5 linked regions of the Homo sapiens genome follow. The protein of the gene in region 3 interacts with the protein of the main gene of each other region in a pairwise test. Each region holds a gene or a part of one and is shown on either strand. Other genes may lie near its edges. The genes, in order: SFRP2, BAAT, RAD54B, PLCG2 and TRMO.

Region 1 (4,010 bases), on a different chromosome or scaffold from region 3:
CATAGGGAGACTAGGGACAATTAGGCAAAAGGAGCCCACCCCCCAACCCAGAACTTACTGTTTGCAGTCAGAGACACTAGATCCCAGGCTCCACGAGAGCAGAGGCCGGCCTGTTTGTTCATTTCTGCACATCCAGCGCCCAGCATGGTGCCCCCTGGTACGTAGGGGATGAATGAGCTAATTCTAGCCCTCGTGGATCTCTAGGCAGGACTCCTTCCTCTACCTCGCTCCCTCCCAGCCTGCCCATCTTTTGTGCCCGTCTTTTGTGCCGGCCACCAGTCTTTACAAACAGTGCCCTGGGGGCCCATACTCCAGCTTTCCAGAGCGCACAGCTGCAAGGGCGGCTGTGTGTTAGAGCCCGTGATGCCTTCGAGTATTGAGTCATGCCATTCATTTAAGAAGGAAAAATCTCTCCAAAACGGGGAAATGGTGGGCAGTCCTGTGTGACTGGTGAGACTCTTGTAGGGGCGTTTCTACAACGACGAAACCCTTCCTAGGCACTCACTCCAACAGAATAACAAGCCCATTTTATTAGTATTTCGTTTTCCATGTAAAGTTCTGCTCATACGAATATATTTATAATTCTGATTTTTTTACGGCATTGGGGAGCACACCGACAGGCTGCTGAACGGTGGCTGGAGATTCGAGGGAAAACGAAGTTCGCCGAGGCGGCCTCGGGCGGGCAGGTCCCGGGCTCCATCACAGGGCACACGCGGCTACCAGGGACGCAGCCCCCCAACACACACACACACACACACACACACACACACACACACACACACACCCTCTCCCACTCATGCCTGGCAACCCAGCAGAAACTTCGGACTGGGGCAAAACAAGCCCGGGCCCCGGCGGCACGCGGGGCTAGGCGCGTTCCCGCCAGTACCTGGTCGCGAGGCCGCTCGCGGGGTGCCCTGCGTGCCCCCCACTCCCGCAGCCCGCGCCCTGCTCGCTCACTGTGGGGGCGCAGCGGCCAGGCTTCTCTGTTTGTTGTTTAAAGAAATCCTAGGGCGGGCGAGCGGCGGCATCTAGGGGAGGGGGCGCAGCCAGAATTCCCTTCCAGCAAGCGCGTGAGGGGCATTCTCAACGCAAAACCAGACCCAGAAAGTAGTGACCAGCCCTCCTCGGATTACCCTTCATTGGCTCCTCCCTTGCTCCCCCCACCCTCCAGATTTGCATAAAAAAGGCCAAGAAAACTCTGGCTGTGCCCCAGCAACGGCTCATTCTGCTCCCCCGGGTCGGAGCCCCCCGGAGCTGCGCGCGGGCTTGCAGCGCCTCGCCCGCGCTGTCCTCCCGGTGTCCCGCTTCTCCGCGCCCCAGCCGCCGGCTGCCAGCTTTTCGGGGCCCCGAGTCGCACCCAGCGAAGAGAGCGGGCCCGGGACAAGCTCGAACTCCGGCCGCCTCGCCCTTCCCCGGCTCCGCTCCCTCTGCCCCCTCGGGGTCGCGCGCCCACGATGCTGCAGGGCCCTGGCTCGCTGCTGCTGCTCTTCCTCGCCTCGCACTGCTGCCTGGGCTCGGCGCGCGGGCTCTTCCTCTTTGGCCAGCCCGACTTCTCCTACAAGCGCAGCAATTGCAAGCCCATCCCTGCCAACCTGCAGCTGTGCCACGGCATCGAATACCAGAACATGCGGCTGCCCAACCTGCTGGGCCACGAGACCATGAAGGAGGTGCTGGAGCAGGCCGGCGCTTGGATCCCGCTGGTCATGAAGCAGTGCCACCCGGACACCAAGAAGTTCCTGTGCTCGCTCTTCGCCCCCGTCTGCCTCGATGACCTAGACGAGACCATCCAGCCATGCCACTCGCTCTGCGTGCAGGTGAAGGACCGCTGCGCCCCGGTCATGTCCGCCTTCGGCTTCCCCTGGCCCGACATGCTTGAGTGCGACCGTTTCCCCCAGGACAACGACCTTTGCATCCCCCTCGCTAGCAGCGACCACCTCCTGCCAGCCACCGAGGAAGGTAAGCCTTCCCTCTTGCTTCCCCACTCCCTGCTGGGCTGAGACGCTCCCAGGAGATCCCGCCCCTGCCACGCATCCCAGTGCATCCCTGCTTGGGGTGCCAGTAGCGGGAAGGGCAGAAGTTCTGCCTGACCTGGTCTGTCATCACAACAAGCCTGTATCAAATTTGAGGCACCCCTCCCACGCCGCCCAAGTCTCGCGCATTCTCCTCCCGAGTTGTACCAGCTATACTTAAGGGCAGTTTAAAAATAAAACAAACAAACAAAAACAACAAAACTAAAAAAACGAAGAACTGAACGGCGGTTTAAAAAAAAATAGATACACGATTATTGTTAAAGATGCTAGCACTGGAGCTGCGCAGAGCGTTGGAAGTGGTGTTTGGTGGAGGAGTTTGTGGTGAGCATTCTGGCCAGAGGCCCCTCGCTCAGCCTCATTCTGCACCTTCCTACCACTGGGCAGGATTCTAGTCACAGGAACATTTCCTGTACAGAAAGGAAAACCAGGATGCACAAGTAGATAACCTTTTAAGGGTCTTTTTGTCCTTTGTCAATTTAGATTTTGGAAATAAAACCGGGACTGGCACGGAGTGTGTGGAAAATTGAACATTGGTTGTAACTGCTCAGATACTTGAGGAAGAGGGCATAAAGGGAATCTCTGGAAATCACTTTTCTATTGCTATCAGTTTTTAACTTAGGAGTGGTTTTGATTAGCTGGAGAAAATCATGCAAAAGAGATTCCCAAGTTTTTAGAAAACGGAGGGAGAGTTCCTGTGCAAAAACCATCAAAGCAATGAAAACCTCATGGGCTCTCAATATTTTTTCTGAAAGGAAAACATATACAATGCCTCTGAGCTGATTTGGGTCCCCTGGGTTGGAAAAGGGAGCTTCCTAATCCCTTTCAGGGCTTCAGCAGCCTCTCCCTTTCAATCTCTAGTAGTTTTCCTACAGACATCATTAGTTAAAGCAAATGCAAAGTTCTTTAGCAATCTTTCCTGGCAGGGACCATGAGTTTGCAATCATCTTATTGGTTAGATTTCTAATTTATTGCAAATGTTTGGCATTTTTCAAACATTTGTCCAACATGTACCATAGACCAACCAATACAGGTTAGTAATATTTTATATACATCCTGAGAGCTCCTAATTGGAAATGTTTGATTTTGTTTGGGTGAGGGGACTTAAGGGCAGTTTTATGTATGTTGCTTTTATTTCTTCCCACTATCAGCAGCAACATTACGCATCTTACATTTCTCCAAAAAGCCACTTTTCTCCTTCAAAATAAAAGTTTATGTTCTTCAAAATTCCAGCTTTGTGATTTTTCTAATTTGATAAATAACGCTTCTATTAAGTCACATAGTTTTCTATGAACATTAAATTTCACATTAGTGAAAATCTCATTTCACCTAAATTTTAAAGACATAATTAACACATTTATAAATGAGAGAAGGGCAATATAATTGTTCTTTTTTTTTTTTTTTTACTTCTCCCAAGAAATCAAACTCTTAGAAGAGCTTTTAGCAGGTCTTCTGATAATTGTGCTAGTATACAATCCCTAAGTTTGATCAGACCACTAAACCATTTTTGCTTCGTCTTTGATTAGCTTCAGAAACAGGTTTATTTATTTGTTTGTTTTGAGAGTTTGAAACAGGCACAGAAGGGCAAGAAGAACCTGTACCAGGGAGCTTGCAGATAACAATGAAATGAATGCTGCCTAACTCAAGCACAATCTTGGCAGAGGCACAAGGTGACACAGAACCACTTAGAGCAGGCTGTTGTAATTAGTGAGATGTGTTTTCAAGGTGGAAACAGCCCACATGTGGAACGCTAGCCAGTCACCCCTCCCAGTCCAGACTTGGCCCCCCTGAGATACAGAGCTCTGCCGAGTAGAGCCAACTACACTGGTGTCCTGTGGCTGAGAAAGACAATCTTTTGTCTATATTTTCTAGTTACCAGTTTTCCCAAATTCCTCAAGTATCTTTGGTTCTTTGGGTGCTTTCTCCTTCAAAAGGCCTTGGGAATAACTTTTTCAGACTGAATTTCCCAGAGGTTGGGAGGAT
Region 2 (3,967 bases), on a different chromosome or scaffold from region 3:
TCCTTTTAATTCTGTCAATTTTTGCCACATAAATCTTGAAATCCATTATTCGGATTTATGGTTTTTATGATCTTGTCATATAGATATATGATATATATATATTTTATAATCTTAGTCATTACTACTTTAGGTTTCTTATGCTTATTGTTGCATAGTATGTGTTGCGGGAAGTCAGGGACCCCAAATGGAGGGACTGGCTGGAGCCGCGGCAGAGGAACATGAATTGTGAAGATTTCATTTTAATATGGACATGTATCAGTTCCCAAAACTAATACTTTTATAATTTCTTACACCTGTCTTTACTGCAGTCTCTGAACATAAACTGTGAAGATTTCATGGACATTTATCACTTCCCAAATAATACTCTTATAATTTCTTACGCCTGTCTTATTTTAATCTCTTAATCCTCATATCTTGGTAAGCTGAGGATGTACGTCACGTCAGGACCACTGTAATTGTATCTGACTGTACAAATTGATTGCAAAACGTGTGTTTGAACAATATGAAATCAGTGCACTTTGAAAAAGAAAGAATAACCGTGATTTTAGGGAACAAGGGAAGACAACCACAAGGTCTGACTGCCTGTGGGGTCAGGCAGAATAGAGCCATATTTTTCTTCTTGCAGAGAGCTTATAAACAGACGTGTAAGTAGGAGAGATATCGCTAAATTCTTCTTGTAGCAAGGAATATTAAATATTAAGACCCTAGGAAAAGAATTGCATTCCCAGGGGGAGGTCTATAAACGGCCACTCTGGGAGTGTCTGTCTTACGCAGTTGAGATAAGGACTGAAATACACCCTGGTCTCCTGCGGTACCCTCAGGCTTATTAGGATGGGGAAAAAATCCTGCTGTGGTAAATCTGAGGTCAGACCGGTTTTCTGCTCTTGAACCCTGTTTTCTGTTGTTTAAGATGTTTATCAAGACAATACATGCACAGTGGAACATAGACCCTCATCAGTAATTCTAAGTTTGCCCTTTGCCTTGTGATCTTTGCATTGCCCTTTGCCTTGTGATCTTTATTGGCCTCAGAAGCATGTGATCTTGTTCTCCCTTTTGCCCTTTGAAGCATGTGATCTTTGTGACCTACTCCCTGTTCATACACCCCCTCCCCTTTTGAAATCCTTAATAAAAACTTGCTGGTTTTGTGGCTCGGGGCCTCACGGTCCTGCTGATATGTGACATCACCCCCGGAGGCCCAGCTGTAAATTCCTCTCTTTGTACTCTTTCTCTTTATTTCTCAGACCAGCCGACACTTAGGGAAAATAGAACCTACGCTGAAATTTTGGGGGCAGGTTCTCTTGCTAGGTATGTATTTTTTTCATTTACTTACTTCCATTCTTTTAATGTAATTTTTCACCACAATCCAGACTCTCAGTAATCCTTTCCTTGCTTTTGTTTAAAGATTTACTCCAAAAATGTGGCCTATAGTTTTAGTTCAGCAAATACAAATTTGAAAGATTTATTTATGTGTATTTATGACTAGTTTCTAACGACATTATGTTTATAAGATTCATCCAGGTTATTGCATGTAGTTGTAATTCATTTATTTTTATTCTCTAGAAGAAGAATTGCTGGGTCAAAAGTTATTCATATTGTCACATTTATTAGACAATGTCCAATTGCTTTCCAAAGTGGTGGTACCAATTTATATTCCCTTAGTAGGGCTTGAGTCTGAGTGATTCACTTCCTAACCAACTCTTATTTTTGGAATTTTTAATTGTTGCCAACCTTTTAGGTATGAAATACACACCATGATTTTAATTTGCATTTCTTTGATAATGAGATTAAGCCTTTTCCCATAAGCTTATGATTGTGTCCTATTGTCTGTTAAGTACCTGTTTAAGACTTTTTCTCATATTCACCTGAGATTTTTAGACATTACTTTTTTAGGAATATTTTATGTATCCCAGTTAATAATTCTTAATCAGTTGTATCTGTAGCATAAGTCTTGCAAGGTAGTAGCTTAATAGTTTTCAAGTTTTTTATGGAGTATTTGGCTGATCAGACTTCCTTAAAATTAAGTTGAATTTAAGTTTCCTTTAAGTTTGCACTTTTTAAATGCTCTATCACCTCAAAAAAGATCCAGTACTTTTATGGAGATAGTCCTTTTATTGTCATGTAAAATCCTACTAACACTCCGTTCTGTAGCTATTTCAAGAAACCATGTGAATTAGTTGAGGAGGATTAGTAGGAGATTTGGTCCTCCCCAAATTCTGAAAGTGGGGCTTGAGTATTTTATTACTCATTACTGTGATCACATTTGTAGTTTTCATCTTTTGTTGTCTCAGGAAAGAAACCATTTGCAAATGCAGAGCCCTCCAGAAGTTACCTTGAGTATTTTATTGCAGAAGAAAAATATGCCCTAATGGTGCCAATAGGGGTCAAACAACTTCTATAAAGAAAATTATTAAAATAATGTGAGTAAAATGTAGTGGCAATCCCTAAGAGGGACGGATTTAGAGAGAACAGAAAATGAAGAGGGAAAATAGTGATACATTTATTGGGTTCAATAACTGTTAAAAATTAATAGGAAACTAGAGCAAGAGGTATGTGGTGACCTAGCACTTAAGTTAGCTCTGTTATACTTCCAAAGGCATATTTGAGGTTTTGGCCTTCTGGGCAAGTTTTGGTAGGGTGTCTGTCATTTTCCCTCTACTGCTGGAAAAGAAGGCTCAAGAGGAAGAATCCAGGTACTTTGTATTTTAATCAGGACTATTTATTTGGGCCGATTGGAAATAAGTTAAAATCTCTGCTCTTGAATTAAATCAGAGTTTATTTACCTCAGTGTTTGGAATTTTAGCAGTTCATGAGGACAAATAGTCTTTTTGTTCATTTCATAATCTCAGCTGTAGAGTTGCCCAGAGTGCTCAGATAAGTGTGTCTTTTCATTTTGATTTGCTTAGAAAGGATGTCAGTAGGGACTTGCTATTATGATGATATTGAGCTGAAATTTATATTTCTGAGGAAAATGAAAGGCTATCAGAAGTCATTTGTTAAAATTTCTTTATTCTGTCTTCCCCATCCCCATCAATATTTCTCCCTCTTTTAAAAGACTATTGCCTAGAATTTTATAGAATAAGCCCTCCTATTCTGGGAAACTGTACTGTGGTCCTATTTATATTTTGTTTGAAGGGTAATTTTCTTTTAATGTAAGACTAATGCCATGTTAGAATTAGATTCTGTGAAAATATTTCTTGAAGCTTTGAATATATGTTATACCTATTTATGCAATTCAGGAATGCTTTCTGGTAGTGAAATGTAATGTTAAAAAATACCAAAAAAAGCAAGTATAAGTTTGAGCTAAAGTTAATGACTTTCTAATTGACTTATTTCTGTTTGGGCACGCTGGTTGATGCATGTGATATTTGTATAGAAATAAATTGAATGGATAATATTGTTAGGGGTGGTGAATATCTGAGTTACTGGTGGCAAATCTGTATGGGTCTGCAGCAATCTCATTTCTTGCCTCCTCGAAAGAAAGAATTCAACTGAGGGGCATAAGGCAGTAAAAGAGACCAAGGCAAGTTTCAGAGCAGGAGCAGAAGTTTATTAAAAAGCTTTAGAACAGGAAAGAAAGGAAAACACACTTGGGAGAGACCCAAGCAGGCATCTTGGAGGTCAAGTGCCTCGTTCATCCTTGAACCTAGGATTTTATATGCTGGCCTACTTCTGGCATCTTGCACCCCTTTCCCTTCATCCTTCCCTTAAGGGTTATGGGGAGCCACCCACATGCATGGTGCCCTGCTTGTGCTTGGGATGTGGGCATGCACAGTGTGTTTACTGGAGTTTTATGCATGCTTATCTGAGGCTTTCTTTCAAATTCTGGTGGAATGCCCCTGGAAGGTCATACTCTGCCATTTTGACTCTTAATGTGCATGTTTGAGCTCATTCGCCCAGTTCCTGAAAGCTGCCAATTATCAATTTCAGGTGTTTTTATCAGTTGAGAAACTGCCTCTCCCTGGTGCTG
Region 3 (3,516 bases):
GTGATATAGAGGAAAGCCAAGGACTACATTTCCCATTTTTACTTCCTAGTCTCCTACCTAACAGGAATTGACCTCAAAGATGAAAGTTCATTTCAGTTACTCAGAAACCTAGGAAGATCCAGAGAAAACTTACCCTCTGGGTATTTGTTAATGGTAAACATGACTAAACTCTTATTCCTGTGACAGTATAGTTCCACACTGATGAATATTTACATAGTCTACTGGAGTCTATTTCTTTTTATCTCCTCTTCTCATCTCCTCATTCTTTTTTCTTTTTTTATCTAATTCAATTTTTATAAACATGATGTAGGCATGCAAATATATCCCCAAAATAATTTTGGTGGGTTTATTATCTAATTTCAGATTTATCAATTGAGACCTGCCTTCTAGTTATATTTGATTTTGCCTTTTTGGGTGATATTTTAGTAAATCTTTTAAATTGTGTTAGCATAGTTTTGAAGAATTACATTGTTATTCTATGATGACTTCATGCTGCTTTAAAGAGGTTCATGAGGCTGGGTGCAGTGGCTCATGCCTTTAATCCCAGCACTTTGGGAGGCTGAGGTGGGCAGATCACTTGAGGTCAGGAGTTCGTGACCAGCCTGGCTAACATGGTGAAACCTTGCCTCTGTTAAAAATACAAAAATTAGCCGGGTGTGGTGGCGCGAACCTGTAATCCCAGGTACTTGGGAGGCTGAGGCACGAGAATTGCTTGAACCTGGGAGGCGGAGGTTGCAGTGAGCTGAGATCACACCACTGCACTCCACCCTGGGCAACAGAGTGATACTCTGTCCCCAGAAAAAAAAGCTTTATGAACTTGACATTCATGAATGTAGTAATTAACTTCAAGCAAATAATGGTGGCTAAGTCAATGGAGAATTTATCATTTTTTCTCAGTTCTAATTAATAGGAGTAATGATCATTGTTAGTGTGTTTAGGACTGAAAAGATAGAAAGCCTGTATGTTAAATTTGGGGAGACTTTTCAGAATGAGAAGCTGTGAACATTGGCAAATGCATCTTGGCAAAATTCCAACCTGTACTTTCAGTTGGAAATAGTTCTCTTTGCTCTGAATACTGAACTATTCAATGTTGTGGCTTATTGAATTCCTTACTAGACAATAGTGAATTTCATTGCTTTCGAAGCACTTTTGGGTATATGAAGTTTGGAAGGCTCTTCGTAATTCTTTGCATGAAATCGTTCATCAGTAAGGCATGAGATTTTCTTTTTAAATTTTGTGCCCTTGGGTAACATTACTGTGACTAAATTTTGGACTTTTTTGGCCACAAATGATGGCAAACATTTCTATCTTAGGGTAATGAAAACAAGATAATGTTGGTTGCTGAAAAAGTGAAATTACAATACTTGTACTTTTATCATTTTTTAAGATTCCCTCGTTATGCCACGACCAGATAAGAATCACCAGTGGGTATTCAATAAGAACTGTTTCCCTCTTGTGGATGTAGTGATTGATCCTTACCTTGTATATCATCTTCGACCACATCAGAAAGAAGGAATCATATTCCTTTATGAATGTGTAATGGGAATGAGGTAGGAAAATAAATCATTTGTTTAATCTAATCTGAATTTTGATTTAACCTGTAACACAATAATGGTTTTCTAAGAAGATCCTAATATAATGAGTCCTGAGGGTACACTATGAATTTCAATTGGTAGGAAAGGTGAATAGTGCTTACTGTGTGCATTTATTCCAAAAGTGGTTCTTGATAGATGCCACGTGCCAAACATACTGCTAGGAGGTGGGCATATGGGAATCAGGACCACGGTCCTTACTTTTAAGTGGCTTTTAAAGTATTTGAGTAAACAGATAAATGCAATTGACCTTAATGTGGTATAATAAAAGCTTACCGACTGCTAGTGTGGTAAAGGGTCATAAGAGCAAGTGAAAGAGGCTTTTAATTCTGGTTATAAGAATTTTTTTTTTTTTTTGGAGACGGAGTCTTACTATGTTGCCCAGACTGGAGTGCAATGGCGTTATCTTGGCTCACTGCAATCTCCATCTCCCAAGTTCAAGTGATTCTTGCATCTCAGCCTCCTGAGTAGCTAGGATTACAGGCGTGCTCCACCATGCCTGGCTAATTTTTGTATTTTTAGTAGAGACGGGGTTTCACCATGTTGGCCAGGCTGGTCTTGAACTCTTGACCTCAAGAGATCCACCCACCTCAGCCTCCCAAAGTGCTAGGATTACAGGCATGAGCCACTGCACCTGGTTATGAGAATTTTGGAAAAAGATTTTCTTCTGTCTCTACATCTGAAAATAGAAAAAAGTTTCTTCTTCCTTTTTGCATTTTCTGATTAAAGAATAGTAGTATCTTAAAGATATTTTAGAGGACACAAAAAAACAGGAGAAAAAAAGAATCAAAGGCCCCTGCTAACATTTCTTCCAGTCTTTTTTGTTTATTTGTTTTGGTTTTGTTTTGCCTTGTTTTTAAATGCCAAGACCCTTGATTTTAAAATTTGTCCTTTAAAGGTAGTTGGAAATGAAATTCTCCCCAACTCTAAGAACTCCTTGAATGATGACAAGTTAAGGGAATACTGTCTTCCAGAAACTGTTAACTAGACTCATATTTCCTCCCAAATCTGCTTTTTCTTTCGAAGGTCTTATCTCAGTTGGTCTGTGAATCATCTTTGATTTCTTCTCTCTCACATTCTGAATCTAGTCAAACCTGAACTTTTAATTATTTTAACCTCCTAAATATTGTTTCCTAATCTTTTCTGTCATTCCACTGCAGCATCTCTAGTAACCGATGTCATAAAAATATCATATTTTATCTAGACTATTGCAATGGCTTCTAACCTGTATATTTGCTTCTGATGCTTCTCAAATAATGTATTCTACTTAAAGCCACCATCTTGAGTTTTCTGAAAAACAGTTCTGAACATGGCATTCCCTTATTTAAAATCATTCAGAGACTCTCAGAACTTAGAACAGTGTTTCCCAAACTGTGATCCCTACTCCACTGGCAGTATATGGGACCATTTTGAGGTGGCAAGTGGACAAGCCTTTAAAAAAATTTGAATAGTAGCATATTTAGTTAATTATTGGAAAAATAGGCTGGGCATGGTGGCTTACACCTGTAATCCCAGCATTTTCGGAGGCCAAGGCAGGCGGATCACTTGAGGTCAGGAGTTCAAGACTAGCCTGGCTAACATGGTGAAATCCCGTCTCTACTAAAAATACAAAAATTAGCTGGGTGTGGTGGCAGGCACCTATAATCCTAGCTACTCAGGAGGCTGAGGCAGGAGAATCACTTGAATCCAGGAGGCGGAGGTTGCAGTGAGCCAAGATAGCGCCACTGCACTCCAGCCTGGATGACAGAGCAAGACTCCGTCTGGAGAGGAAAAAAAAAAAAAAGAAAAATAGCACATTAAACTTTTGGTTTCACAGATAAATTATGCTTAGAAAGAGTTTTCTTTTCAAATTTAAGTTAAAATGATTTGAAGAAAAATCATAAATAACATATAGTATCACAGATATGACAACAAATCGTGATGG
Region 4 (3,516 bases), on a different chromosome or scaffold from region 3:
TTTTTGTATTTCCTTTTTTTTTTTTTTTTTTTTTTTTTGGGACAGAGTCACATTCTGTTGCCTAGGCTAGAGTGCAGTGGCATGATCTCGGCTCACTGCAACCTTTGCCTCCTGGGTTCAAGTGATTCTCCTGCCTCAGCCTCCTGAGTAGCTGGGACTACAGGCGCCTGCCACCATGCCTGGCTAATTTTTTGTATTTTTAGTAGAGACAGGGTTTCACCGTGTTAGCCAGGATGATCTCGATCTCCTGACCTCATGATCCACCCGCCTCAACCTCCCAAAGTGCTGGGATTACAGGCGTGAGCCACCACGCCTGGCCCAATTTTTGTATTTTTAGTAGAGACAGAGTTTCGCCATGTTGGTCAGGCTGGTCTTGAACTCCTGGCTTCTCGCGATCCACCTGCCTTGGCCTCCCAAAGTGCTGGGATTACAGGCGTGAGCCACTGTGCCCAGGCTATTTTATTTTTTATAGAGATGGGGGTCTCATTGTGTTGGCCAGGCTGGTCTCAAACTCCTGACCCCAAGTGATCCTCCTGCCTCAGCCTCCCAAAGTGCTGGGATTTCAGGTGTGAACCACTGTGCTCGGCCCAATGTATTATTTTGGGCTTGAAACAGACCCCTGGGGTCTTCCACTATTCTTTTCACAAATTCTCTTTGCTGAGGTGCCTTTGTCTGGGGAAGCCCACTGTGTGATTTCCATGGTCGTTTCCAGGGCCAGGTTCCAGGTGTCACTGGTGCCATTATCTTGTCCTCTGCGGGTGGCCCACTGACAGCCTGGAGACCGCTCACCTGGTCGTTTTCCCTGGCCCTGTGCCGCAGGTGGTACTATGACAGCCTGAGCCGCGGAGAGGCAGAGGACATGCTGATGAGGATTCCCCGGGACGGGGCCTTCCTGATCCGGAAGCGAGAGGGGAGCGACTCCTATGCCATCACCTTCAGGTGGGTGCGAGGGTGGGAGGCACATGCTCTACAGAGGGGCTTGGCAAGGACAGATGCGGAGAGACAAGGGGGAACTTCAGGTGGAGGCTCACCTGCAGTGCCCTGCCCCCCCAGCATCAGCGACAACAACAACCACCACAGCAAAAGCCGCTGCGAGAATGTGCGCTCCTGCGTGCCAGGCACAGTCTGCGTTCTCCAGGGCAGGATGTTCTGTAGTAACTCACTTTGGCTTCCAGTAACTCTGTGGGGTTGACATGACCATGATCCGTGTTTCTCAGAGGAGGAAACTGAGGCACAGCAAGATTAAGTAACTTGCTGAAGCATGCAGCCACTAAGTGGTGGGGCTGGGATTCGAGCCCAGACAGCCCAGGCAGCCCAGGCCTGTGATGATATAGATCTGGTTTCCTCCCAACTGCAGCTGCTGCCCAACCACCTCTAGGCCTGTGGTTCTCTAATGTTACCCCAAAACGCCAGATTCTCCCACTTCCACTAATGACAAGGAGCCGAGGAGTGACTCAGACTCCGTGTAGCCTACTGTCCCTCCATCTCCCCAGCCCCAGGGTTTCCCTGCATGTTCTTACGGTGGTAACAGTCTGCTATATGTTGAGTTCCTAACCGTGTTCTAGACACTGGACTGCCTTCAAGGCCTCATCTGATTGAATCCTTTGCTACAGCCTGTGAGAGGTAGGTCTAGTTATTGCAAGGGAGGAAACAGGACCAGAGAGGTTAAGTGACCTGCCTGGAGTCACACAGCCTCATAGTCAACTGAGTTTGAGGTTCAGATGCAGGCCTGTCCGTCTCCAAAGCCTAAGCTCTTCACTCCAGAGTCTCTAGCCAGAGGCCTGGGGGCCAAATCTCCAGCCAGAGGCCTGTGGGCGTCTTTTGTACACTGATGTGAAAAACTGAGAAATTTCACTGAAAAACTCAGATTGCTTCTTGTGAAAAATGGGAGGCAGTGGATGCTCTGGGCCTGTGTTTCCACATGGGCGCGGTGGTGCTGGCTGCATGGCAGCTACTGTGGGGTGTGTGGTTTGCCCCTGTCCACTCCTCTCCCCATTCCCTCTGCCCTGATCCCATCCCCTGGTGACCCTGCCAGGCTGCCCCCTGGGCGTTTGGATTTCCCTTCCTCCTTGCCTGCACCACTATGCCTGAGCCACCTCCCTGGGGACCGTGGTGACGGTCATTATCACTATAGTTTACTGAGGACCTACTGTGTACTGGCTCCAGCCAGAGAGCAGCCTCCCACCAGCATGGCTTTTCTGTACTCTCTGTTCCCAAGAGGGTGACCTGGGCTTCTCAGCATTGGTGCCTCTGCCCTTTGCTCTTTCCCCTAAGCCTCTTAGTGGTACCTCCTCAGCCTGGATGGGGAGGAGGTGTGTTCAGTCCGCTGCACACGGATTGAAAACCTGCTGTGTGCCAGGCCCCAGGTGGGGTGTTGGCACTCCCACTGTGCTGTCATCCTGTGCAAATGATGGCAACTAAACCCAACTGGCTGAAACTGAGGTGCCCAAGCGGTGAGACAGCTCTGACACAACCGGATCGGGGCCTCACCTGATGATGGTCAGGATGCCACCTGTATGTGCATGCTGGCGTTACTCTCCATCAGCTTCTGTCTCAGGTGGCTGTACCTTGGGCTGCCAGGACAGTGTCCGGCAGAAAGGATGGCCCCCTCCCTGAGCCAGGTGGCATGATTCTGACAGGCCATCTGGGGATGGGGTTGGGGTCACTTCAATGGGACCGCGTGAATGAAGAGGTTGGGTGGGTCCTCAGGTTGATTGCCTGACTTACATACACGCCCCATTCAGTTTGTGAGCTTGTCTTCCCCATGAGATTGGAGGTGTCTTGAGAATGGAAGTTTTTATTTTTTAGAAGTTAATAGATGTTTGGTGAGCACCTACTGTGTGCCGGGCCCTGTGCTGGGCTCCAGAGATGCAGGAGTGATAAAAACAGCCCAGTCCTTGCTCTCTCAGGCTAATGGTCTGGCAGGGATGAGAGACATCGCCTTACTCCAAGTGTTTCTTGCTTTTGACCTGTTCCTGCTTATGTAACATTGGCTGGGATGTAGTTGGTGGTTGGTGAATGCTGGCTCAGTGAATCAATCAGCAAGGATGGCCGCTCCCCACCTCACCCCATGGCCCACTGTCAGGGAAGCTCAGTCCACACAGTGTTTCTCAAAGAGTTGGGGTGTGAGGACTGATCCTGTTGTATTTGGATGTTGAACTTCCCTGGTCTCTACCCACTGCATGTCTGTCTGGGACCCTAAGTCATTGTAACAATCAAAAATAACATCCCTGCCCCAGGACACACACTTTTTCAAACCCTCTCTGGTCAGGGTATGGGGTGAAGCGTCACTGTCCTTCACTGAGAAGCACTGAGGAGGTTTGAGCACATAAGGAAATCAGTGTAGTATTTTGTGATGAGTGCTACAAAGGGATTGGTCAGGCAGGGTGGTGGAGGGTGAGTAGCTCTCCAGGGAAACGGATGGGGAATTTGGACCAGGCAGTAGGGGAACACAGGTCTGCAGCAACTTCTCCTTGCCCTCTACATATTTGTAAAGTGCCTCTCCTGTGCCAGGCA
Region 5 (3,516 bases), on a different chromosome or scaffold from region 3:
ACTGTACTCCAGCCTGGGTGACAGAGTGAGACTCCATCAAAAAGAAGAAGCTGGTTGCCAAGGAGATGTCAGATTGCAAAAAGCTGTTCTTTGTGTTACAACTCAGTAAGGAGCCAGCATAACCATATAAAGAGGGAAGTTCATTTATTCATTCTACAGTTGTTTACTGAGCTTCTGCTAGGTACCAGACATTGGTCTAGGTTCTTGGAATACATCAGTGAACAAAACAGATATAAAAAACCCCTGCTGTCATGGAGCTTGCATTCTAATGGGGAGGAGAGAGACAAATTAAAAGTATAATAAGCAATCAAGTTATTAGACCAAACATATTCAACATTATATAATATTAGAAGGTGATAAGAGTTACTGAAAAATTTAAGAATACAGCAGGCTTGGAGTGTTGTTACTATTTTATTTTATTTTTGAGACAGGGTCTCACTCTGTCACCCAGACTGGAGTGCAGTGGCAAGAACATGGCTTACTGCAGCCTCAGCCTTCCGGGCTCAAGCAGTCCTCCCACCTCAGCCTTCTGTGTAGCTGGGACTACAGGTGTGCACCACAACACCTGGCTAATATTTTGATTTTTTTTTTTTTTTTTTTTGAGACGGAGTCTCGCTCTGTCGCCCAGGCTGGAGTGCAATGGCTCGATCTCGGCTCACTGCAAGCTCCGCCTCCCGGGTTCACACCATTCACCTGCCTCCGCCTCCCGAGTAGCTGGGACTACAGGCGCCCGCCACCACACCCAGCTAATTTTTTGTATTTTTAGTAGAGACTGAGTTTCACCGTGTTAGGCAGGATGGTCTCGATCTCCTGACCTTGTGATTCCCCCGCCTTGGCCTCCCAAAGTGTCCAGATTACAGGTGTGAGCCACCGTGCCCAACCTATTTTGAATTTTTAAAGAGACGGGGTCTCATTTTGTTGCCCAGACTTGTCTTGAACTCTTGGGGGTCAGGGGATCCTCTGTCTCAGCCTCCCAAAGTGCAGGGATTACAGGTGTGAGCCACTGCACCTAGCCTGTTGCAATTTTAAATAGGTGGCCCCAGTGGGCCTCACTGAGAAAGACACATATGAGCAAAGGTCAAAGAGGTGAAGACATGAGCCAGCCTGTCCAGAGAAAGGACATGCTGGCCTGAGGGACAGCCAGTGCACAGCCGCAAAGTGGAGGGTGCATGGCACGTTTGAGGTCATGTGGTCAGAGTGGACTGAGGAGGGCTGAGCGGAAGGATATGAGGTCAAAGAGGCACTAGAAAAGGGACGAGGTCACCTAAGGGTTTTATAGGCCATTGTAAGGACTTGAGTTTTGATCTTGGGAGAAGTAAAAGGCAGAGGAACTTGATGTCCGTATCCCCAGAGAGCAGGGGACCATCTCTGGGGTCAGATCACTACCTGTGTGATTTCTGGGATGTCACACCTCAGTGACATGCAAAGGCAAGCTGGAGTTCCTTATTGAGACAATGAAGACTTTCATTCTATATCCAGAAAATAAAGGCTTACACAACCAAAGATACTAGATTTTCCCCTGCTTTACTAGCAGGGAGAGAATGAAGAGGCTAGGGGGGTATTTGGCTTTGATAATCCAACCTGAAGGAGGTTTTTCTGATGGGAAAAAGAAGTCTAAAAGTTGGGACTGGAGATACATGCCAACTGACTCTGAGATTTCCCCATTTCTTCCTGTCAGAGCCACAGCCAGCCCACACTGTTGCCTTTTGCAAAGGAAAAGCCACCCCTTCCTCTGGGTGGAGGCAGCCACCTGCCAGGGCCCAGGAACTGGTTTTAGCCCCAACATGCAAACTTCAGCCAAGTGCCGTATGCAGGGCACCCCCTGCACTTCTGGACACGGCAGTCTCGTGGTCATGAGTGGTGATGCCACTTGAGGGTTGTGCTTCTCTTTGGCTCCTAAGGCTTTACTTTTAAACAAAGCTTTTGATTTTAAAATTGATCTTTTTATTTTTAAAAGTTTTGTTGATAGAAATCATTACATCACTGTATACAGTTGATGGGAGGAGGCTGGTCAGTTGTAAAAGGATTTTATGGTGGAACAAAACAGTCCTGCCTTCTAGACACTTTATGCTTACCACTTGTCCTGTGGTTATTGTCTAATGCAAACTACTATGGAAAGTTTTGTTTTTCTTTCTTTTCTTTTTTCTTTCTTTCTTTTTTTTTTTTTTTTTGAGACGGAGTCTTACTCTGTCACCCAGGCTGGAGTGTAGTGACGCGATCTCGGCTCACCGCAACCGCCTCCTCCCGGGTTCAAGCGATTCTCCTCCCTCAGCCTCCTGAGTAGCTGGGATTACAGGCGTGAGCCACCACACCCAGCCTGGAAAGTTTTGTTTTTTAAACTGCAGTGCAGTATGTGTCAGATGTTTGAAATATGCCTTACTGATTAAAAAAATGATTAAAATGAGAAATTACGCAGTGTAACTACAAAACAGGAACTGATTGATAGCAAACAGCAAAATTCAGAGCTGTTGCAGAAATAAGAAGTGACTTCAGGAAGTTCTGAGTCTAGAAGAGGTTAAAGGTGTTGAAATGGGAGGAAGTTTGGTGCTGGAGTAAAGGTCTGGGCAGAGTGCTGTGGGCACTCTGAGAGGAGAATCCTGACTTGTGTCTGGGAGGGAGTGTGGAAGGAAACAGTGCTTGAGCTGAGCCTGGCAGGATGAGTAGGCAGGGAATTGGGGGAAGGCACCCATGCCAGATAAACGGCCAAGCAGAGGCCTGGAGCCTCTCCCAGAAACGCCGTCACAGGGGAGTGTGATGAGCTCTCCTCATTTTTGAGTGGCCTTCAGAGCCATTTTCTATGAGCCATGCAGTAAAGGAACCTTATTGCCATATAATTGATTTTTTTTTTTTTTTTTGAGATACAGTCTCTTTCTGTCACCCAGGCTGGAGTGCAGTGGTGCAATCTTGGCTCACTGCAACCTCCACCTCCCGGGTTCAAGTGATCCTCCTGCCTCCTGAGTAGCTAGAATTACAGGCGTGCGCCACCATACCTGGCTAATTTTTTTGTGTGTGTGTATTTTTAGTAGAGATGGCGTTTCACCATGTTGGTCAGGCTGGTCTCAAATTTCTGACCTTGTGAGCCTCCTGCCTTGGCCTCCCAAAGTGCTGGGATTACAGGTGTGAGCCACCGTGCCCAGCCCATATAATTGATTTTTGACTAAAAATTGTACTTCATGGCTTTATTTACCCAACCTGCTTATTAGATATGGCCCACAGTGATTTTTGGCTGCTTGTAGAAATCAAATCCACTCCAAGAGGGATAAAGATCCACTGCCACCACAGATGATATTTTGAGCAGGGACAGTGTTTTTAAGATCTGTACCTTCCTGGAAGGGGCATTTGGATGTATGTGATGTTGTAGTTATGAAAAACTAGGTCACAGTTACTTTCTAAATTTATGTTTTATACATACCATATTAAAAATAAAATACATTAAAAATCCTACAAACATAGGAAGTTTTGCTGTTTCTTAGGGACACAGATGTGAGAGAGTCCCAAAGCAAAGGGATGTTACTG

The links.
Region 1: the proteins of RAD54B (region 3) and SFRP2 interact in a two-hybrid assay, tested with the Homo sapiens proteins (one large-scale study listed by BioGRID and IntAct).
Region 2: the proteins of RAD54B (region 3) and BAAT interact in a two-hybrid assay, tested with the Homo sapiens proteins (one large-scale study listed by BioGRID and IntAct).
Region 4: the proteins of RAD54B (region 3) and PLCG2 interact in a two-hybrid assay, tested with the Homo sapiens proteins (one large-scale study listed by BioGRID).
Region 5: the proteins of RAD54B (region 3) and TRMO interact in a two-hybrid assay, tested with the Homo sapiens proteins (one large-scale study listed by BioGRID and IntAct).

The regions. Positions count from the first base shown.
Region 1 is NC_000004.12:153,786,280-153,790,289, reverse strand, and holds the start of SFRP2 (secreted frizzled-related protein 2 precursor), read left to right. Parts: upstream 1-1,206; 5' UTR 1,207-1,454; coding exon 1,455-1,956; intron 1,957-4,010. UniProt on the Homo sapiens protein: Soluble frizzled-related proteins (sFRPS) function as modulators of Wnt signaling through direct interaction with Wnts. They have a role in regulating cell growth and differentiation in specific cell types.
Region 2 is NC_000009.12:101,382,193-101,386,159, reverse strand, and holds the start of BAAT (bile acid-CoA:amino acid N-acyltransferase), read left to right. Parts: upstream 1-1,153; 5' UTR 1,154-1,305; intron 1,306-2,286; exon of another isoform or gene 2,287-2,417; intron 2,418-2,595; exon of another isoform or gene 2,596-2,690; intron 2,691-3,967. UniProt on the Homo sapiens protein: Catalyzes the amidation of bile acids (BAs) with the amino acids taurine and glycine. More than 95% of the BAs are N-acyl amidates with glycine and taurine.
Region 3 is NC_000008.11:94,402,111-94,405,626, reverse strand, and holds part of RAD54B (DNA repair and recombination protein RAD54B), read left to right. Parts: intron 1-1,387; coding exon 1,388-1,550; intron 1,551-3,516. UniProt on the Homo sapiens protein: Involved in DNA repair and mitotic recombination. May play an active role in recombination processes in concert with other members of the RAD52 epistasis group.
Region 4 is NC_000016.10:81,911,778-81,915,293, forward strand, and holds part of PLCG2 (1-phosphatidylinositol 4,5-bisphosphate phosphodiesterase gamma-2), read left to right. Parts: intron 1-819; coding exon 820-939; intron 940-3,516. UniProt on the Homo sapiens protein: The production of the second messenger molecules diacylglycerol (DAG) and inositol 1,4,5-trisphosphate (IP3) is mediated by activated phosphatidylinositol-specific phospholipase C enzymes. It is a crucial enzyme in transmembrane signaling.
Region 5 is NC_000009.12:97,905,497-97,909,012, reverse strand, and holds part of TRMO (tRNA (adenine(37)-N6)-methyltransferase), read left to right. Parts: intron 1-3,516. UniProt on the Homo sapiens protein: S-adenosyl-L-methionine-dependent methyltransferase responsible for the addition of the methyl group in the formation of N6-methyl-N6-threonylcarbamoyladenosine at position 37 (m(6)t(6)A37) of the tRNA anticodon loop of tRNA(Ser)(GCU).